Regions from separate parts of the Homo sapiens genome. Here all the other regions are linked to region 2. The links come from fine-mapping of genetic effects on gene expression. A gene starts in region 2. Each other region holds a variant in brackets. All regions are shown on one strand. Distances are between the middles of the regions.

What was found.
Region 1: its variant is fine-mapped to the expression of S100A6 in whole blood (TOPMed, PIP above 0.99).
Region 3: its variant is fine-mapped to the expression of S100A6 in rectum (CEDAR, PIP 0.95).

What each region holds. Positions count from the first base shown.
Region 1 is chr1:153,563,523-153,569,782 of GRCh38, forward strand. S100A2 (S100 calcium binding protein A2) reads right to left here and starts at 2,322. Exons shown (of 3, transcript NM_005978.4): 1 at 1,984-2,322; 2 at 212-365. The coding sequence starts at 355. RefSeq lists enhancers at 679-1,436, 1,437-2,194, 2,314-2,373, 2,347-3,546, 3,244-3,483 and 1 more. The variant C/T (reference allele first, on the strand shown) is at 3,084.
Region 2 is chr1:153,533,443-153,539,702 of GRCh38, forward strand. It overlaps S100A6 (S100 calcium binding protein A6), which reads right to left and starts at 2,549. Exons shown (of 3, transcript NM_014624.4): 1 at 2,507-2,549; 2 at 1,760-1,918; 3 at 1,157-1,388. The coding sequence starts at 1,897. The coding sequence ends at 1,254. It overlaps S100A5 (S100 calcium binding protein A5), which reads right to left. Exons shown (of 3, transcript NM_001394232.1): 3 at 3,705-3,994. The coding sequence ends at 3,854. It overlaps LOC124904423 (a long non-coding RNA gene), which reads left to right. Exons shown (of 2, transcript XR_007066630.1): 1 at 1-479; 2 at 1,462-4,233. RefSeq lists enhancers at 291-585, 2,539-3,174.
Region 3 is chr1:153,314,441-153,320,700 of GRCh38, forward strand. No RefSeq gene overlaps it. Among named protein-coding and RNA genes, the nearest start is that of PGLYRP3, 4.6 kb to the left of the region's middle. The variant T/G (reference allele first, on the strand shown) is at 2,938.

The sequences.
Region 1 (6,260 bases), 30 kb after region 2:
GGTTCTCTGGAATGCTGCAGGAAACAGCCATTAATTAAGCACTCCCACTCGGGCCTCATTTCCACTCCAGTGGAGCCATGAAGCTAAAGTGGGGAGGGGGCTGGGCCCCACCCTGGCACCTGCATCGACAGGCACCCGGAACTGGGGGAGAGATTTAACCTGCACCCCCACACTCACACCAGGACCTCCCCCACAGGCCTGTGCCACTCACCCCCACAAAGCTGGGCAGCTCCTTGTGCAGAAGTTCCTTCATTTCCCCCTTACTCAGCTTGAACTTGTCGCCCTCTTGGCAGGAGTACTTGTGGAAGGTAGTGACCAGCACAGCCAGCGCCTGCTCCAGAGAACTGCACATCATGGATCTGTGGCTGCAGAGGTGCCAGGTGATGGGTACACTGCTGAGGCTCTTGGGGCCTTAGCTCAGCCTGTAGGATCCACTTCTGCCCTATGCCCCCAAGCCACCTCACAAAACCCCTCTCTGAATGGGAAGGCAGGGGCTGCATCTCCCCCTCAGACTGTGGTTCCCTGAGGCCGGAGGCGATACCTCCATCTCACCCTGAGGGCAGACGCTAAAGCTTCCCTTGTGTCTGGGAGTCACCAAGCCTCCTCTGATGGCACTTGGGACACCCCCCTGAGGGCAGGGCTCCCCATTTTAGTGTCTGCCAGAAGGGAAATGACAGGGTGACCAGAGTCCCATTTTGATGGCATCTGCGCAGGCTCTGGGGAGCAGGGCCACATGCACCGGCTGGCAGATGGGGGCTCCTGTGCAGTCTGGCAGGAGCCATGGCTACAGCCTAGGAGCAGGAAGCTCCCTGAAGGAGTCGTTTCCCTCCTTAGACTCGGGACTCCTGAAGCCAGAGGCATCTCTCTCTGCCATCTAACTGGAAGCTCCCTTGGGCAGGAGTGTTTCCTCTCTCAGACTAGGAGCTCCCAGAGGGTGGGGAATGTGTCTCCCCTCACCCTGAAGGCCCCTGAGCCTCTAGGCAGACAGGGGCATGGATAGGGTGGGGGCAACTTAACATTCTCTCCACCAGGAAGGATCCTGTTGGAATTAGAATTAAAGATATGAAATGTTCATTGCCTTGGGATCAGGATGGGACAGACCTCAGCGGCAAGGCCTCTGAGAATACTCAGACCAGCCTGGAAAGGTTAGGCAGGTTTCAGGGTGAGGCCAGAGGAGCTATGCCAGAGGCAGGGCATGCCCTGGGCCCATCATGCCAGCCCTGCCTTCACCGAGGCAGGGGGCAGAGCTTTGCTGCTTGGGGCCATGACCCAGGCAGAGTCTTGAGACCCCTGCCTCTTGCACCTTAGTCCTGCTAGAATCCAGGACTTTGCAAAAAAAAAAAAAAATCTCAGGATTCTTTTTGCAGCAACGCCCACATGCACACCTCCTGCTCCTAGGCCTAGACCCCCAAAGAAGGGCCCCTAGACTGAGATATCCAGGGGAGGGCCTCAGAGCAACCCCTGCACTGAGACCTCACAGAGGAACCTGGAGAAAAACCCTTCAGTCGGCCGGGCGCGGTGGCTTACTCCTGTAATCCCAGCACTTTGGGAGGCCGAGATGGGTGGATCACGAGATCAGGAGATCGAGACCATCCTGGCTAACATGGTGAAACCCCATCTCTACTAAAAATACAAAAAAATTAGCCGGGCATGGTGGTGGGCGCCTGCAGTCCCAGCTACTCGGGAGGCTGAGGCAGGAGAATGGCGTGAACCTGGGAGGGGGAGTTTGCAGTGAGCTGAGATCACACCACTGTACTCCAGCCTGGGCGACAGAGCGAGACTCCATCTCAAAAAAAAAAAAAAAAAAAAAAAACCCTTCAGTCAACACTTCAGCACTTCACAGAGAGTTCTTCCAAGGGGGAAGGCCCAGAGAGGCCCAGGTTGATCCCACCAGGGAAGCTGGAATGAGAGAACTGTGGAGACAAAGACAGAGACCCACGGGGATCCTCCCCACCCTGCCCTCAGCAGGACAGAGGTACTCACCAGACCAGGTGGCAGAGACAGACCCAGGAAGGAGAGCAAGGCAGCCAGGCTCCCAGGGTGAGGATTTATATGTGGGCCCCACTGGCCCCCAACTTGGCATTTTAAGGAAACCAAACCTGCCTCAACCTGATCCCACCAAACCCTGGCCTCTTGCCATTCCCACTCATTCCCTCCCAGCCCCCTCCCTCCCAGAGAGTGCCAGCTCCACCACCAGCTGGGGGAGGGCTCTAGGCCAGGTCAAGGGCAGCCCCTGAGCCCACCCAGGCCACAGTGGGAAGTGGGAGGTGTCGTGGGGACTGGGCATCCTGGACCGGGGTGAGGGGAGGCAACCCCTGCTCTGGGGCCTGGAGACTGGTGCCAGGCCTCATTCTCATGACATGCCTGTGAGTCACAGCCCACTCCTGTGTGAGAGGCTGTGAGCACACGCTGAGACTTCATGGTCCAGTGCTCGTGTACATACATGCGCCCGTGTGTGTGAGAGAGAAGCAACCTGGGGCCACCCTTAGGAAGCTGGGGGCCAGAGGAGGCAGCTGGGGGACATCAGGAGGAGAAGGACAGGACTGACTTCAGGGCATGGATGAAGTGGAGTGACTTTTAATGGCCAGCACCAGAATACCTCTTAATGAGGTAATGAGGTAACTAAGTGTGCTTAGAAATACCTGGGAAGGTCCCTCTGTGTAGGAAGGTGTCTGGAAGGATGGGGAAGCAGTGAGAAATGGGGTTGCTCTACACACAGCCGCAGTTGGGCTGGGCCACAGTCTGTGGGGAGCATAAGGAAGTCCCGAGTAGTTAAAGGCTGAACAGGAAAACTTTGGCCTCCTCTTCTCCAGCTTGAGGGCTGGGTGGGTGGGTAGGGGTACATCCCTACCCAAGGCTGAAAACACCAGCTGGACAGCTTCCCAAGCCAGAATCCAGGCCTGAAGCACAGCCCTCAGCCACAGCCCTCTCTCACTGCCCCCCACACACATGTCCTCCCCAGACCCGGAGAAAGGCAAACACTGTGGCCATTCAGAGCCCAGCCCAAGGGAGGGCTGCCCCCTCCCAGGGCCCCTTCCTCCTTGGCCCTTTGTCTATCCCGGCCCGTCTGGGCATCAGGGCAC[C/T]GCCCTTCCTGTGGCCCCAGCTCCCCTCCCTGCTCCAGCTGTCGAGTAGCTTCTTCCCCTCCCCCAGCCCCTCTACCTCAGCCCTAAGTGACTCACCCGAGGTTCCAGGCCCAGATGCCCAGGCAGTGACTCAGCGGCACACCCTCCTCCCCCAGGGCCAGGGCAGCAGCAGTCCCAGAGCAGTAGGTGGAAGCCCCAGCCCAGCCTGGCAGGGAAAGCACTGGCACAGAGACCCCAAACAGGCCCTGCCAGGAGGAGCTTTGGATAATGACATGGCAGGAGGATCAGACTGAGAACAGGCTGGTCCCTTCCTAGCGGTCACCGTGTGACTTGGGGGCCAGCCTGAGCAGTGTACATGAAGTCAGGCCTTGGGGCCCCCAGTGTCCTCTTCTACACCTTGGCACAGCCACCGAGTGTCCCTTGCTCCCCTCAGTACTTGAACCCCTCATGCTACTTGTCTTCCCATCGAGGCCTACTTCAAGTAGAACTCGGAATAAAAACCCTTCACACTGAGGGTGAGGGACAAGGGAGCGCAATGCATCGATTTTCACAGCCATTCTTTCCTTTTAACTAAGGGCCTCCACAGGGCCTTCCCTGCTCAGAAACTGCAGTGCATCCCCATGGCTGTCCCTTAAAGCCAGGCGGTATGTTCTCACTCATAAGTGGGAGTTGAACAATGAGAACATATGGACACAGGGAAGGGAACACCACATACCAGGGCCTGTGGGCAGTTGCGGGGAGAAGGATGGGGGCAAGGGGAGGGAGAGCATTAGGACTAATACCTGATGCATGCGGGGCTTAAAACCTAGATGATGGGTTGATAGGTGCAGCAAACCACCATGGCACATGTATACCTATGTAACAAACCACATTCTGCACATGTATGCCAGAACTTAAAGTAAAAATAAAATAAAATTAAATTAAAATTAAAAATTTTTAAAAAGCCTGGCAGTGAGGCGCTCCAGACTCGGCCTGCTGCTGCGTGTCCCTTAAACACACCGGCACATGCAACTAGTGTGGCCAAGACCCTCGGCTTGCGCTGACCCCTCTGTTCAGAACGTGCCCACACATGCCCATGCCCTCTATCCTGCTGAAATCCAACCCCCCCTTCAAAGGCCACTGCAGGGAGCCTTCCCAGGGCCCAACCGGATTCAGTGTCTACCTGTTCTGTCCTGTACAAAGCGCCCCTTTTGCCCTTTTCGTGTGTACTTAGAGAATTCTGATTTTGACTGAATCACCTGTGTACTTGTTTTCTCTCAGCCTCACCCCCACATGGTGAGCTCACCGGTCTTACTCATTTCTGCATGAGGTAAGGGTCTCGCCCACACCAGGTGCCAACCAGTGCTTACGGCTACCACATGGCAACAGGGGTCACTGGAGGAGTGCTTAGGAGCAAGGGAGTCCTTCTCACCCCGTGAAATCACACCACTGACTATGCTACGAAATAATCACCTCTCCTCTGGATCCCAAGAGTGGAACCGAGACAACGGGTCGGAAAAGAGCTTCAGAGAGCTACAAATCCCTGAGGAGTGACAGCAGGAAACTGCGGCTCCCAGGACCCAGTGAGGGAGTTGAGCAAACCCCCCAGCGGGCAGAGACGGAGACAGGCAGGCAGACGAAGAAGACAAAGAGTCAGTCAGATGGAAAAGCCAGGGAGAAAAACAGAGACAGCAGCAGAGCCGCGGGTCACTAGGGTCAGCTCCTGAAGGCCTGTCCTTAATCAGGTGTCTCTGTCTCAGGAACTGAGGCTGCGACTGCGCCCATCAAATGGCCATATACCTGAGACTGGTGATAATCGTATTCATTTGCCACTAACTTGCTGCGTAACCTTGGGCAACTCCCTCCCCCACGGCAGGGCAGGAGAGTTGTACGGAATGGCCCCTAGAGTCCGATCCCAATCCCACTCTCACATTCTCCAGCTGTCTACAAAGGCAGAGTAGTCAAGACACAAGCAGGCCCTGCGGACATCCAAAGCAGTGACTCTGCCCCGGCCCAGCCTCAGGAAGCTGGGTCCTCACATTCCGTCCACCCCATCTCCGGGCTCCAGGTGCCAGAAATTTTCCACCAGCGGCCCCGCGGGATTTTGCCCAGCTGCTTCGTGCCCTCTGGTGGCTAAGGCGTGTCATTGCAGTGCCGGCCTCCTGTCATCCTCCCTTTCTTGTCCGCCAGACCCTCTGGCGCCCTGCTTACGACTCAAACAGGAGACAGTGCTGATTCATTTCCAAGCGGCCTTCCTACACCCACACCTGCTTCACATAGATGAGGTTTCCCGGACAGTCCCTGCCCAGAAGCCCAGGTGGATGTCTGAGACGGCAGCCAGATACCTGGAAGCCATTTTAAAAGCCTAGGGATATGGGTACTCGGGAGATAGGAGGCGGAAAGACCACTTGAGCCTAGGAGTTTGAGGCTGCAGTGAGCCATGATCGTGCCACTGCACTCCAGCCTGGACGACAGAGCAAGACCCTGTCTCAATCAATCAATCAATGCAAGCCTAGAGATAAGGGCAGGAGAAAACCAGGGGACAGAAGTGAGGGATTGGCCACTGCCAAGTTCTGCCCACCCACCCCCTTTCCCCAGGCCGTTCAGGGGAAAGAGAAATGGCCTCATTGTGGGGGCCACAGGTTTAGTTTAAGTCCTGACATTGCCTCTGGCTTACTGTGTGACTGTCGACCTTGGTTGAGTGGTGCCACGAACCTGAGCTTAAACGTTTTCAGCAGAAGGACCCCCTTTATTATGCCCCGCCCCACAAAATAAGTTCTGAGGTATTCTGTCTTAGCAAAATGCATTAAATAATTTATTTCCCCTGTTGTACTAATTGGATCCATAAGTGTCTCCCGGCAGCATGACCAGCATGCGAGGACCCACGTTATCACATTGGGTTCAGGTCATCCTGGATTTGTCACTCACAATGGGCGTGTGCATATCCTTTGCTGGGGGGTGCAGACTGAAATTTTGAAGCACTCGCTGTGCGTCAGGTGCTCTCCGTACATTACCCCATTTAATTCACACAACAATCCCAGGAGTTGGAATAAGATGACCCCACTTCACAGAGGAGAACACTGAGACTCAAAGTCTGCCAAATTCACACAATTAGTAAGGGGTGGGGAGGCATGACGAACACAGGTGGTCACAACGTTAAACCTTTCCTAGAAGCTCCAATTATTCCCCGATAACCCT
Region 2 (6,260 bases):
GAGGGAGCTGAATAGAGCCAAGGCTTGGGCACGGCTGTGCAGAGAGGGAATTCGGCCCCCGGTCTCTTGCAACCAACAGCGCGACTTCTCCCTGCAGGGCAGGGGAGGCAATAGAGAAGGAGGGCCTCCAAGAAGGTGCATCTCCCAGCTGTTTACCAATCCCCACCCAGTGGGGACAGAAGACAACTTAATTCCACAAAGTTGGACCCCCAAGGGAAGTGGGGAGGTGAGAGGGAAAGAAGGATGTGGTCTCCATCTAAAGTCAAGATCTCTTCCCCAGAAGCTAGAGGTAAACTTGCCCAGCTCGGACTAGGCCTAGAGAGGCTGAATGATGTGGCATCACCCGGAAACAGCGTTTACCCTCCTTATCCTCTTCCCTTCTGCCTGAAAACACTAATCCAGATGATGGACAATGATTCAATTAGTCATCTTCTCTGATGGGGGCTGAGATCCAGGCTGGGATCCCGTGGAAGTGCCGGGTGAGTCATTACGCTGAGGCTGCAGGGATACCCCGCCCCATTACTGAACACCCCGTGGTTCACGTGTTGGTGCAGCTGCCAGCTCCTCAGACCACCGTTCCAACAAAAAGCCCTCACCCTGAATGCAGGGACACACTCCAAGAGTGTGCCTCCCCCACTCCACCTGGGACCTGGGCAGCCGCAGTAGACTCAGTCACACAGCGTCCTCACTGGTGTAGGAAACTCCCTGAGCCAAGCCTCAGGCATCTCAGATGTGCCCTATCTAACCCCTGCGCTGTGATGAGAAAGGGGACTTGCCCCACCCCAGGGCCCCTCTTGCCACACCCAGAGCAAAACACATCTGGGAGCCTCTGGGACTATCTCTGCCTCACTTCCAGGCCCCCAAACCCCATCACATCCCGGCCCAGGGACCATTTCCATCTCCAAGCTCATCCCAGGACTCTCTCTACTGGAAACCACTTGAGCCTTTCCTTAGGATGGCGTTGCCAAGAGGGGCATCTCTCCTCATTCACATAAAGGCACCTTATGTGCTAGAGGCAGCCTTGTCAGGGTGGGTCCTCTGGCCTGGCGAGTCAATGAGTCATTTTCAGAGGTTGACCGTGAGCAAATCTTCCAATGGCTGGTGTCCCACTAAGCCAAGGAGGAACAGAAATCATTCGGAAGCCAGGACGCAAGGGTAAATTTGACCAAAAAAAATTTATTGTACAATTACCCACCACTGGATTTGACTCAGAGAGGACCCCCAGAGGGTGTCTCCATCTTCCCTATTTATTTTCAGCCCTTGAGGGCTTCATTGTAGATCAAAGCCAAGGCCCCCAGGAAGGTGACATACTCCTGGAAGTTCACCTCCTGGTCCTTGTTCCGGTCCAAGTCTTCCATCAGCCTTGCAATTTCAGCATCCTGCAGCTTCTAATGTGTTAGAATGTGAAATCCATACTCAGTGGTGATGACAACCCTGGATTCTTCCCCTTCCCCCTCCCAGGCAATCCTCTCTGCAAGTGGCTCTGTGCTCCCTCATCACCAAGGACCCATGTCACTTTGGCATTGCTTCTCCTCAGCTACTTCTCAGTTACTGGTCCTCATTTGGAGAGATGGATATCCGGCTGGAAGCATCCCCTACCCGCTGGGAGAGTGGGTCTACAGCTCAGGGTCTACATGTGGACCAGGGCCTCAGAATGTGGGTAAATGTGAGTCAGATGCACCTGGCACCTCTCTCTCCCCTAATCCTGCTTCCAAAGGACAAGGGTGGGAAAAGGGGTCCTGGGGAGGAGGCCACTCACCGAGCCAATGGTGAGCTCCTTCTGGATCAGCTCCTTCAGCTCCTTCTTGCTCAGGGTGTGCTTGTCACCCTCCCTGCCGGAGTACTTGTGGAAGATGGCCACGAGGAGGCCAATGGCCTGATCCAGGGGGCATGCCATGGCTGAGGGCTGGGCTTGGAGCTGGCAGCAGAGGGCCTAGTCAGTGCCATGGGAGCAAGGACTTCTCACCCACACACCCCAATAATGCTGCCTGCACTAGCCCCGCCTCCTTTGGAACCACCCAGTCTCAGGCCACACACAATGGCATCAGGAGACAGCCCAGGGCTTGAAGGGGAAGGAGAGAGCACACTAGGGCCAAGGCAAGAGAGGTGGCTTAAGGATTCTAAGAAGCATATAGGAACAGTAGCTTTGGGCACAGCTGAGAACTGTCCTTCAGGGGATCCAGAAGTTGAGGAGTATGGCTGGGCAGGGGAGGGGAATGGAGGCTGCAAAGGCAGCTTAAACACAGCTTCACAGGGCCACACATGGTGGCAATGACACACCCAGGGCACTCCCTTCCGCACCCCAAAAGAGCACACCCCATTGCGATCCCTTAGCCCAAGGCCTGCCTGGCACAGCACTGCTGCTCCTGACTATCCCTCCAGCGGGGGAGCGCCACAGATGGCCCCAGTCTGGATCCAGCGGCTGAACTGGGCAGGGGATGGCTGGACCCCCAGCGTGAGGGCAGCTGGCCCTGGAAAGTACCCAGGGCTCCTGGAGAGAACTCACCGGTAGGGAGGCGGCCAAATGCGACGCGAGCGGTCGAGGGGATGGGCTGTGTCGCAGTCCGACTGGCCTTATAGCGGTCGGTGCCCCGGAGGCCAGCTCGGCCAAGCCCACCCCGCCCGCCCAAGTCCCGCCCGCGCCCCACCCTGCGCCGTGGCTTACACAACGCACATTCGCGGTTTACCCCCTCGACTTTCCACGCCTCCTGCCCGGGGCTGTTCCGGGTTAGGACGGGATGGGGGAGCCCAGCAGTGCCCACTGCACGCCTGGTGACGAGTCTCCCCTCATCTGCGCAGCTCAGTTTGCTCAGTTTGCTCTTCGTGACACGTGACTCGGCAAGGGGAGCAGGAGGAGGACTGCGGCGGTCACCCCTGCTTCCTCTGCCAGACCGTGAATGTGACCCTCGAGCCAGCGCAGCGTCAATGTGGGCAAGGAGGGCGCCTCACAGGATGCCGGTGTCCCACAGAGGATACTCAGGGTCACCCCAGAGGAGATAGGGGGAGTAGCCAGTGGTGTAAAGGATATCTACGGCGCCCATCCCCCACCAGCAACAAGTTCCTACCAACACCTCCACTCCTTCCCCTCAGTGCCCCAAATTCCATTCACTACAGCACCTTTGGTGTTAATGTGCATGCACGTGGGAGCCCAGCCCTGTAAGCACCATTCGTTATTTACGGGGGAGTGAAGGCCTTTTCAGACCCTCCCCTGAGAAAAGATTTTGATGGAGGAGGCAGGGAGAGAAGAAAGCACTGTCCCCCATAGATGATGAGAGTGGTGCTATTGAAGGGGAAATGGTGAAGAGGGAGGGGGCTGGTGTGGAGGCCAGACATGCCCTTCCTACAGGTGCTGCCAAGGTGGCCTCCGGTGAGCTGTGGACAAGTCAGGCCTGCCTGCCTATCACCGCCCTCAGGAGCCACTCCCAACCCCTCCCAGTGTCCTCCTCTCAAAGCAACTTTCCCTCTTAACTTCCTCTGCATCCTTGCAGAGTTCCCGCCTGGCCTAACTTCCCCATTTTCCAGGCAGGCAAAACTAAGCCATGACAAAACCAATGACGTCCACACCAAAGAAGGAGAGGAATGCAGTGGGAGCCCAGGACCCTAACCCCCAGAGGCAGAAGCTGTCTCAACCCACTCAAGGAGAGACCCTTCCTGTGCTCCCCTCTCCCCAGGCCAAGGTAGACAAGACAGCTTCAAAACCAGACTCCCAGCACCTGCGATGGAAACTTTATTTCCTCCCATGGAAGGGTCCATCTGGGAGGGAGAGGAGGGCAGGGGGCCAAAGAGGGTCTGTGAGAGGAGCAGCCGAGGTCAGCAGCAAAGGGTGGAGGGTGAGGGTGGAGGGCAGCCCTGGTCACTTGTTGTCCTCTAGAAAGAAGTCGTTGTAGGCCATGCACAGCATGGTCAGGAACACCGAGTACTCCTTGAAGTCGATCTCCTGGTCGCTGTTCTTGTCCAGGCTCTTCATCAAGTCATCGATGCTGCTCTCCTTCATCTTTTGTGGACCCAGGTGGAGAGACAGCTCAGACCCCGCTCCCAGCCCTGCCCTCGCACCACTGCATGGTGTCATCCCCACCCCGAAACTTCAGGGTGAGCCCCAGCTGAGTCAATGACACTGTCAGCATCTCGACCCCCAGAGTCTGCCCACTGCCCACACCTAGGGAAGGGCCTGGCATGAGGTAGGGGGTCAGGGACCTGACTCCTGAATGGAAATAAATGACAGCAGGAATGCTAGCCTAGCCTGCCTTCCCTGCAATACTGTCCCCCAGCCAAAGAAACAATCATCTAGGTTTTATACCAACACCTGATAAAAACAGCTTGCTGGGTCAGGTGTGGTGGCTCACACCTGTAATCCTAGCACTTTGGGAGGCCGAGGCGGGTGGATCACCTGACATCAGGAGTTCGAGACCAGCCTGACCAACATGGTGAAACCCTGTCTCTACTGAAAATACAAAATTAGCCAGGCATGGTGGTACATCCCTGTAATCCCAGCTATTTGGAAGGCTGAGGCAGGAGAATCGCTTGAACTTGAGAAGCGGAGGTTGCAGTAAGTAAGATCATGCCATTGCACTCCAGCCTGGGCAACAAGAATGAAACTCCTTCTCAAAAAAAAAAAAAGAACACCTTGCTGATTATGTGGCATTGAGCATTATCCAAGTCTCTGAGTGACTCTCTCCCCATTCTAAGGACTAGGTGAGAATAACCCCGGACAAAATGTCTCTCAATGAGAGCAGTGCACTGGGGCTGTGAAGCCACTGCATCCCTCCCCTGCTAGGAGAGCTGTGCAAGAGGCCTGCCTGGAGCCTGGTTGTGCACTGTTGTTCAGTCCCCTGATGTCCCAGCCTGGCTCCATTAGGACGATGGAGTCAGGGTCCTTTGGGTGGAACAGGAAGAAAATATAGACAAGCAGATCCTGATGTCTCCTCATCATTGCCGTCAGCTACAGGTTTTCACAGGAGACATTGGGACTTACAAAGGCGGAAACTGCTTGTCTGTCACGTGATCCTAGTCCCCAGCCTGGGCTCCTGTTATTGCCAGGCCCTCCTCTGGGCGTCTCTCCTTCTGTAATTAATCCCTGCTGGACCTGTGGCCCCTCCCTCTGCCCTCATTAACCTCCAGGATGCAGGCAGCCTGGCAGAAGGCCAGAGATCAGGCCTGGGGACGCCCATACCTGCTTCTGTCCCCTGCCCATGTGGCACACTGTGGACCTTCTTTCTGGGAGGGCCTACCAGGGCTCAAGGTGTGATAGATGGAGAGGCACCCAGGCTAAATTTTAAAGGAAACAGGGAGGATGATTCACAGGCCTGGCCCAGAACTCCAGCTCAGCCTCCCACTAGCGGATTGTCCTTAGGCAAGTTATTTGATGTATTTGAGCATTGATTTTTTTTAACTATAAAAATAATAAGACTAGGCACAGTGGCTCATGCCTGTAATTTCAGCACTTTGGGAGGCTGAGGCGATAGGATCATTTGAGGCCAGGAGTTCAAGAACAGCCTGGGTAAAATAGTGAGACCCCATCTCTACAAAAAATTTTAAAAATTATCTAAGCGTGGTGGTATTTGCTTGTAGTCCTAGCTTCTCAGGAGGCTGAGGTAAGAGGATCACTTGAGCCTGAAAGTTCAAGGCTACAGTGAGCCATGATCGCACCACTGCACTCTAACCTGGGTGACAGAGTGAGACTCTGTCTCAAAAATATTTATCCTTGGCCAGGCGCAGTGGCTCACGCCTGTAATCCCAACACTTTGGGAGTCCGAGGCAGATGGATCACGAGGTCAGGTGTTCGAGACCAGCCTGACCAACATGGTGAAACCCCCATCTCTACTAAAAATACAAAAATTAGCTGGGCGTGATGGTGCGTGCCTGTAATCCCAGCTACTGAAGAGGCTGAGGCAGGAGAATCGCTTGAACCTGAGAGGCGGAGGTTGCAGTGAGCCAAGATCATGTCACTGCATTCCAGCCTGGGTGACAGAGCGAGACTCTCTCAAAAAAAAAAAAAAAAAAAAAAAAAAATATATATATATATATATATATATATTTATTTATTTATTTATCCTCGGGGATATTGTATTATAATAACCTCATGGGCCTTCCCCTCTGTCAGTCACCTCCCTCCCACCACCTCCATCTGGTGAGAACCAGTTCTGTCTCCTCACTACCCTATGTTTACAAGTTAACCTTTCAGTTTGAGTGCCAGCACCATCAGAGAGCCCTGGCCATGCTGTGCACACAGAGAAGAATCAGGCAGAGTCCCTACACTTGAG
Region 3 (6,260 bases), 220 kb before region 2:
CCATGTGTTCTCATTGTTCAACTCCCACTTATGAGTGAGAACATGCAGTGTTTGGTTTTCTGTCCTTGTGATAGTTTGCTGAGAATGATGGCTTCCTTCATCCATCATTGGATGAATGATGGATGGACCTTCATCCATGTCCCCACAAAGGACATGAACTCTTCCTTTTTTATGGCTGCATAGTATTCCTTGGTGTATATGTGCCACATTTTCTTTATCCAGTCTATTATTGATGGACATTTGGGTTGGTTCCAAGTCTTTGCTATTGTGAATAGTGCTGCAATAAACATATGTGTGCATGTGTCTTTATAGCAGCATGATTTATAATCCTTTGGGTATATACCCAGTAATGTGATGGCTCAGTCAAATGGTATTTCTAGTTCTAGATCCTTGAGGAATTGCCACACTGTCTTCCACAATGGTTGAACTAATTTACACTCCCACCAACAGTGTAAAAGTGTTCCTATTTCTCCACATCCTCTCCAGCATCTGTTGTTTCCTGACTTTTTAATGATCACTATTCTAATTGGCGTGAGATGGTATCTAATTGTAGTTTTGATTTGCATTTCTCTAATGACCAGTGATGATGAAGATTTTTTCATGTGTCTTTTGGCTGCATAAATGTCTTCTTTTGAGAAGTGTCTGTTCATATCCTTTGCCCACTTTATGATGGGGTTGTTTGTTTTTTCTTGTAAATTTGTTTAAGTTCTTTGTAGATTCTGGATATTAGCCCTTTGTCAGATGGATAGATTGTAAAAATTTTCTCCCATTCTGTAGGTTGCCTGTTCACTCTGCTGATAGTTTATTTTGCTGTGCAGAAGCTCTTTAGTTTAATTAGATCCCATTTGTCGATTTTGGCTTTTGTTGCCATTGCTTTTGGTATTTTAGTCATAAAGTATTTGCCCATGCCTATGTCCTGAATGGTATTGCCTAGGTTTTCCTCTGGAGTTTTTATGGTTTTAGGTCTTACATTTAAGTCTTTAATCCATCTGATTTAATTTTTGTATAAGGTGTAAGGAAGGGATCCAGTTTCAGCTTTCTATATGGCTAGCCAGTTTTCCCAGCACCACTTATTAAATAGGGAATCCTTTCCCCATTTCTTGTTTTTGTCAGGTTTGTCAAAAATCAGATGGTTGTAGATGTGTGGTGTTATTTCTGAAGGCTCTGTTCTGTTCCATTGGTCTATATCTCTGTTTTGGTACAAGTACCATGCTGTTTTGGTTACTGTAGCCTTGTAGTATAGTTTGAAGTCAGGTAGCATGATGCCTCCGGCTTTGTTCATTTTGCTTAGGATTGTCTTGGCTATGAGGGCTCTTTTTTGGTTCCACATGAACTTTAAAGTAGTTTTCTCCAATTCTGTGAAGAAAGTCAGTGGTAGCTTGATAGCATTGAATCTATAAATTACTTTGGGCAGTATGGCCATTTTCATGATATTGATTCCTTCTATCCATGAGCATGGAATGTTCTTCCATTTGTTTGTGTCCTCTTTTATTTCATTGAGCAGTGGTTTGTAGTTCTCCTTGAAGAGGTCCTTCACATCCCTTATAAGTTGGATTCCTAGGTATTTTATTCCCTTTGTAGCAATAGTGAATGGGAGTTCACTCATGATTTGGCTCTCTGTCTTTTATTGGTGTATAGGAATGCTTGTGATTTTTTCACATTGATTTTGTATCCTGAGACTTTGCTGAAGTTGCTTATCAGCTTAAGGAGATTTTGGGCTGAGACAAGGGGTTTTCTAAATGTACAATCATGTCATCTGCAAACAGGGACAATTTGACTTCCTCTTTTCCTAATTGAGTACACTTTATTTCTTTCTCTTGCATGATTGCCCTGGCCAGAACTTCCAGTACTATGTAGAATAGGAGTGGTGAGAGAGGGCATCCTTGTCTTGTGCTGGTTTTCAAGGGGAATGCTTCCAGCTTTTGCCCATTCAGTATGATATTGGCTGTGGGCTTGTCATAAGCAGCTCTTATTATTTTGAGATACGTTCCATCAATACCTAGTTTATTGAGAGTTTTTAGCATGAAGGGCTGTTGAATTTTGTCGAAGGCCTTTTCTGCGTCTATTGAGATAATCATGTGGTTTTTGTCATTGGTTCTGTTTACGTGATGGATTACATTTATTGATTTGCATATGTTGAACCAGCCTGGCATCCCAGGGATGAAGCCGACTTCGTTGTGGTGGATAAGCTTTTTGATGTGCTGCTGGATTCGGCTTGCCAGTATTTCATTGAGGATTTTCGCATTGATGTTCATCAAAGACATTGGCCTAAAATTCTCTTTTTTGTTGTGTCTCTGCCAGACATTGATGTCAGGATGGTGCTGGCCTCATAGAATGAGTTATGGAGGATTCCCTCTTTTTCTATTGATTGGAATAGTTTCAGAAGGAATGGTACCAGCTCCTCTTTGTACCTCTGGTAGAATTTGGCTGTGAATCTGTCTGGTTCTGGACTTTTTTTGGTTGGTAGGCTATTAATTATTGCCTCAATTTCAGAACCTGTTATTGGTCTATTCAGAGATTCAATTTTTTCCTGGTTTAGTCTTGGGAGGGTGTATGTGTCCAGGAATTTATCCATTTCTTCTAGATTTTCTAATTTATTTGCGTAGAGGTGTTTGTAGTATTCTCTGATGGTAGTTTGTATTTCTGTGGGATCGGTGGGGATATCCCCTTTATTATTTTTTAGTGCACCTATTTGATTCTTCTCTCTTTTCTTCTTTGTCTTGCTAGCAGTCTATCAATTTTGTTGATCTTTTCAAAAAACCAGTTCCTGGATTCATTGATTTTTTGAAGGGTTTTTTGTGTCCCTATCTCCTTCAGTTCTGCTCTGATCTTAGTTATTCTTGTCTTCTGCTAGCTTTTAAATGTGTTTGCTCTTGCTTCTCTAGTTCTTTTAATTATGATGTTAGGGTGTCGATTTTAGATCTTTCCTGCTTTCTC[T/G]TGTGGTCATTTAGTGCTATAAATTTCCCTCTGCACACTGCTTTAAATGTGTCCCAGACATTCTGGTACATTGTGTCTTTGTTCTCATTGGTTTCAAAGAACATCTTTATTTCTGCCTTCATTTCGTTGTTGACCCAGTAGTCATTCAGGAGCAGGTTGTTCGGTTTGCATGTAGTTGTGTGGTTTTGAGTGAGTTTTTTAATCCTGAGTTCTAGTTTGATTGCACTGTGGTCTGAGAGACAGTTTGTTGTGATTTCTGTTCTTTTGCATTTGCTGAAGAGTGTTTTCCTTCCAATTATGTGGTCAATTTTAGAATAAGTGCATTGTGATGCTGAGAAGAATGTATATTCTGTTGCAACATTTGGGGTGGAGAGCTCTGTAGATGCCTATTAGGTCCACTTGGTGCAGAGCTGAGTTCAATTCCTGGATATCCTTGTTAATTTTCTGTCTCAATGATCTGTCTAATATTGACAGTGGGGTGTTAAAGTCTCCCATTATTATTGTGTGGGAGTCTAAGTCTCTTTGTAGGTCTCTAAGGACTTGCTTTATGAATCTGGGTGCTCCTGTATTGGGTGCACAGATATTTAGTATAGTTAGCTCTTCTTGTTGAATTGATCCCTTTACCATTATGTAATGGCCTTCTTTGTCTCTTTTGATCTTTGTTCATTTAAAGTCTGTTTTATCAGAGATGAGGATTGCAACTCCTGCTTCTTTTTTGCTTTCCATTTGCTTAGTAGATCTTCCTCCGTCCCTTTATTTTGAGCCTATGTGTGTCTTTGCATGTGAGATCGTTCTCCTGAATATAGCACATTGATGGGTCTTGACTCTTTATCCAATTTCCTAGTCTGTGTCTTTTAATTGGGGCATTTAGCCCATTTACATTTAAGGTTAATATTGTTATGTGTGAATTTGATCCTGTCATTATGATGCTAGCTTGTTGTTTTGCACGTTAGTTGATGCAAACAACTAACGTTTATGCATGATGACATTATGATGACGTTTCTTCATAACGTCAATGGTCTTTACAATTTGGCATGCTTTTGCCGTGGCTGGTACCAGTTGTTCCTTTCCACGTTTAGTGCTTCCTTCAGGAGCTCTTGTAAGGCAGGCCTGGTGGTGACAAAATCACTCAGTATTTGCTTGTCTGTAAAGGATTTTATTTCTCCTTCATTTATGAAGCTTAGTTTGGTTGGATATGAAATTCTGGGTTGAAAATTCTTTAAGAATGTTGAATATTGGCCCCCACTCTCTTCTGACTTGTAGAGTTTCTGCCGAGAGATCTGCTGTTAGTCTGATGGGCTTCCCTTTGTGGGACCTTTCTCTCTGGCTGCCCTTAACATTTTTTTCTTCATTTCAGCCTTGGTGAATCTGATGATTATGTGTCTTAGGGTGGCTCTTCTAGAGGAATATCTTTGTGGCATTCTCTGTATTTCCTGAATTTGAATGTTGGCCTGCCTTGTTAGGTTGGGGAAGTTCTCTTGGATAATATCCTGAAGAGTGTTTTCTAACTTGGTTCCATTCTCCCTGTCACTTTCAGGTACACCAATCAAACGTAGATTTGGTCTTTTCACATAGTCCCATATTCCTTGGAGGCTTTGTTCATTTCTTTTCACTCTTTTTTCTCTAATCTTGTCTTCTTACTTTATTTCATTAATTTGATCTTCAATCACTGATATCCTTTCTTCCCTTGATCAAATCGGCTATTGAAGCTTTTGTATGCTTCATGAAGTTCTCATGCTGTGTTTTTCAGCTCCATCAGGTCATTTATGTTCTTCTCTACACTGGTTATTCTAGTTAGCCATTCCCCTAACCTTTTTTCAAGGTTTTCAACTTGCTTGCGATGGGTTAGAACATGCTTCTTTAGCTCGGAGAAGTTTGTTATTACCCACCTTCTGAAGCCTACTTCTGTCAACTCATCAAACTCATTCTCCATCCAGTTTTGTTCCCTTGCTGGTGAGGAGTTGTGGTCCTTTGGAGAAGAAATCTTCTGATTTTTGGAATTTTCAGCCTTTCTGCTCTGGTTTCTCCCCATCTTTGTGGTTTTATCTACCTTTGGTCTTTGATGTTGGTGACCTACAGATGGGGTTTTGGTGTGGATGTCCTTTTTGTTGATGTTGATGCTATTCCTTTCTGTTTGTTAGTCTTCCTTCTAACAGTCAGGCCCCTCAGCTGCAGGTCTGTTGGAGTTTGCTGGAGGTCCAGACGCTGATTGCCTAGGCATCACCAGCAGAGGCTGCAGAACAGCAAATATTGCTTCCTGATCCTTCCTCTGGAAGTTTCATCCCAGAGGGGCACCAACAAGATGCCAGCCAGAGCTCTCCTGTATGAGGTGTCTCTCTGTCCCTACTGGGAGGTGTCTCCCAGTCAGGCTACACAGGGGTCAGGGACCCACTTAAGGAGGCAGTCTGTCCATTATCAGAGCACAAATGCCATACTGGGAGAACCACTGTTCTCTTCAGAGCTGTCAGGCAGGGACGTTTAAGTCTGGAGAAGCTTTGCCCACAGCTGCCCCTTTCCCCAGGTGCTCTGTCCCAGGGAGATGAGGGTTTTATCTATAAGTCCCTGGCTGGGGCTGCTGCCTTTTGTTCAGATATGCACTGCCCACAGAGGTGGAATCTAGAGAGGCAGTCAGCCTTGCTGAGCTGCAGTGGGCTCTGACCAGTTCAAGCTTCCCGGCAGCTTTATTTACACTATGAGCATAAAATCGCCTACTCAAGCCTCAGCAATGGTGGATGCCCCTCCCCCCAGCAAGCTCCAGCATTCCAGGTCAATTTCAGTCTGCTGCTCTAGCAGTGAGAATTTCAAGCCAATGGATATTAGCTTGCTGGGCTCCATGGGCGTGGGACCCACCGAGCCAGGCACCAGAGGAAATCTCCTGGTCTGCCAGTTGCAAAGACCATGGCAAAAGTGCAGTATTTGGGCAGGAGTGTACCGTTCTTCCTGGTACAGTCTCTCACAGCTTCCCTTGGCTGGAAAAGGGAAATTCCCTGACTCCTTGCACTTCCCAGGTGAGGTGATGCCCCACCCTGCTTCAGCTCACCCTCCATGGACTGCACCCACGGTCCAACCAGTCTTGATGAGATGAACCAATAAACCAGGTACCTCAGTTGGAAATGCAGAAATCACCCATCTTCTGCGTCAATCTCACTGGGAGCTACAGACCGAAGCTGTTCCTATTCGGCCATCTTGAAAGAGCACTCTCTTGGCATACTCAATATGTTTAGTTGCCTTACTTTCTTTTCTTTCTTTTTTCTTTTTTTGTTGAGATAGGGTCTTGCTTTGTCACCCAGGCTGTGATGAAGTGGTGCAATCTTGGCTCACTG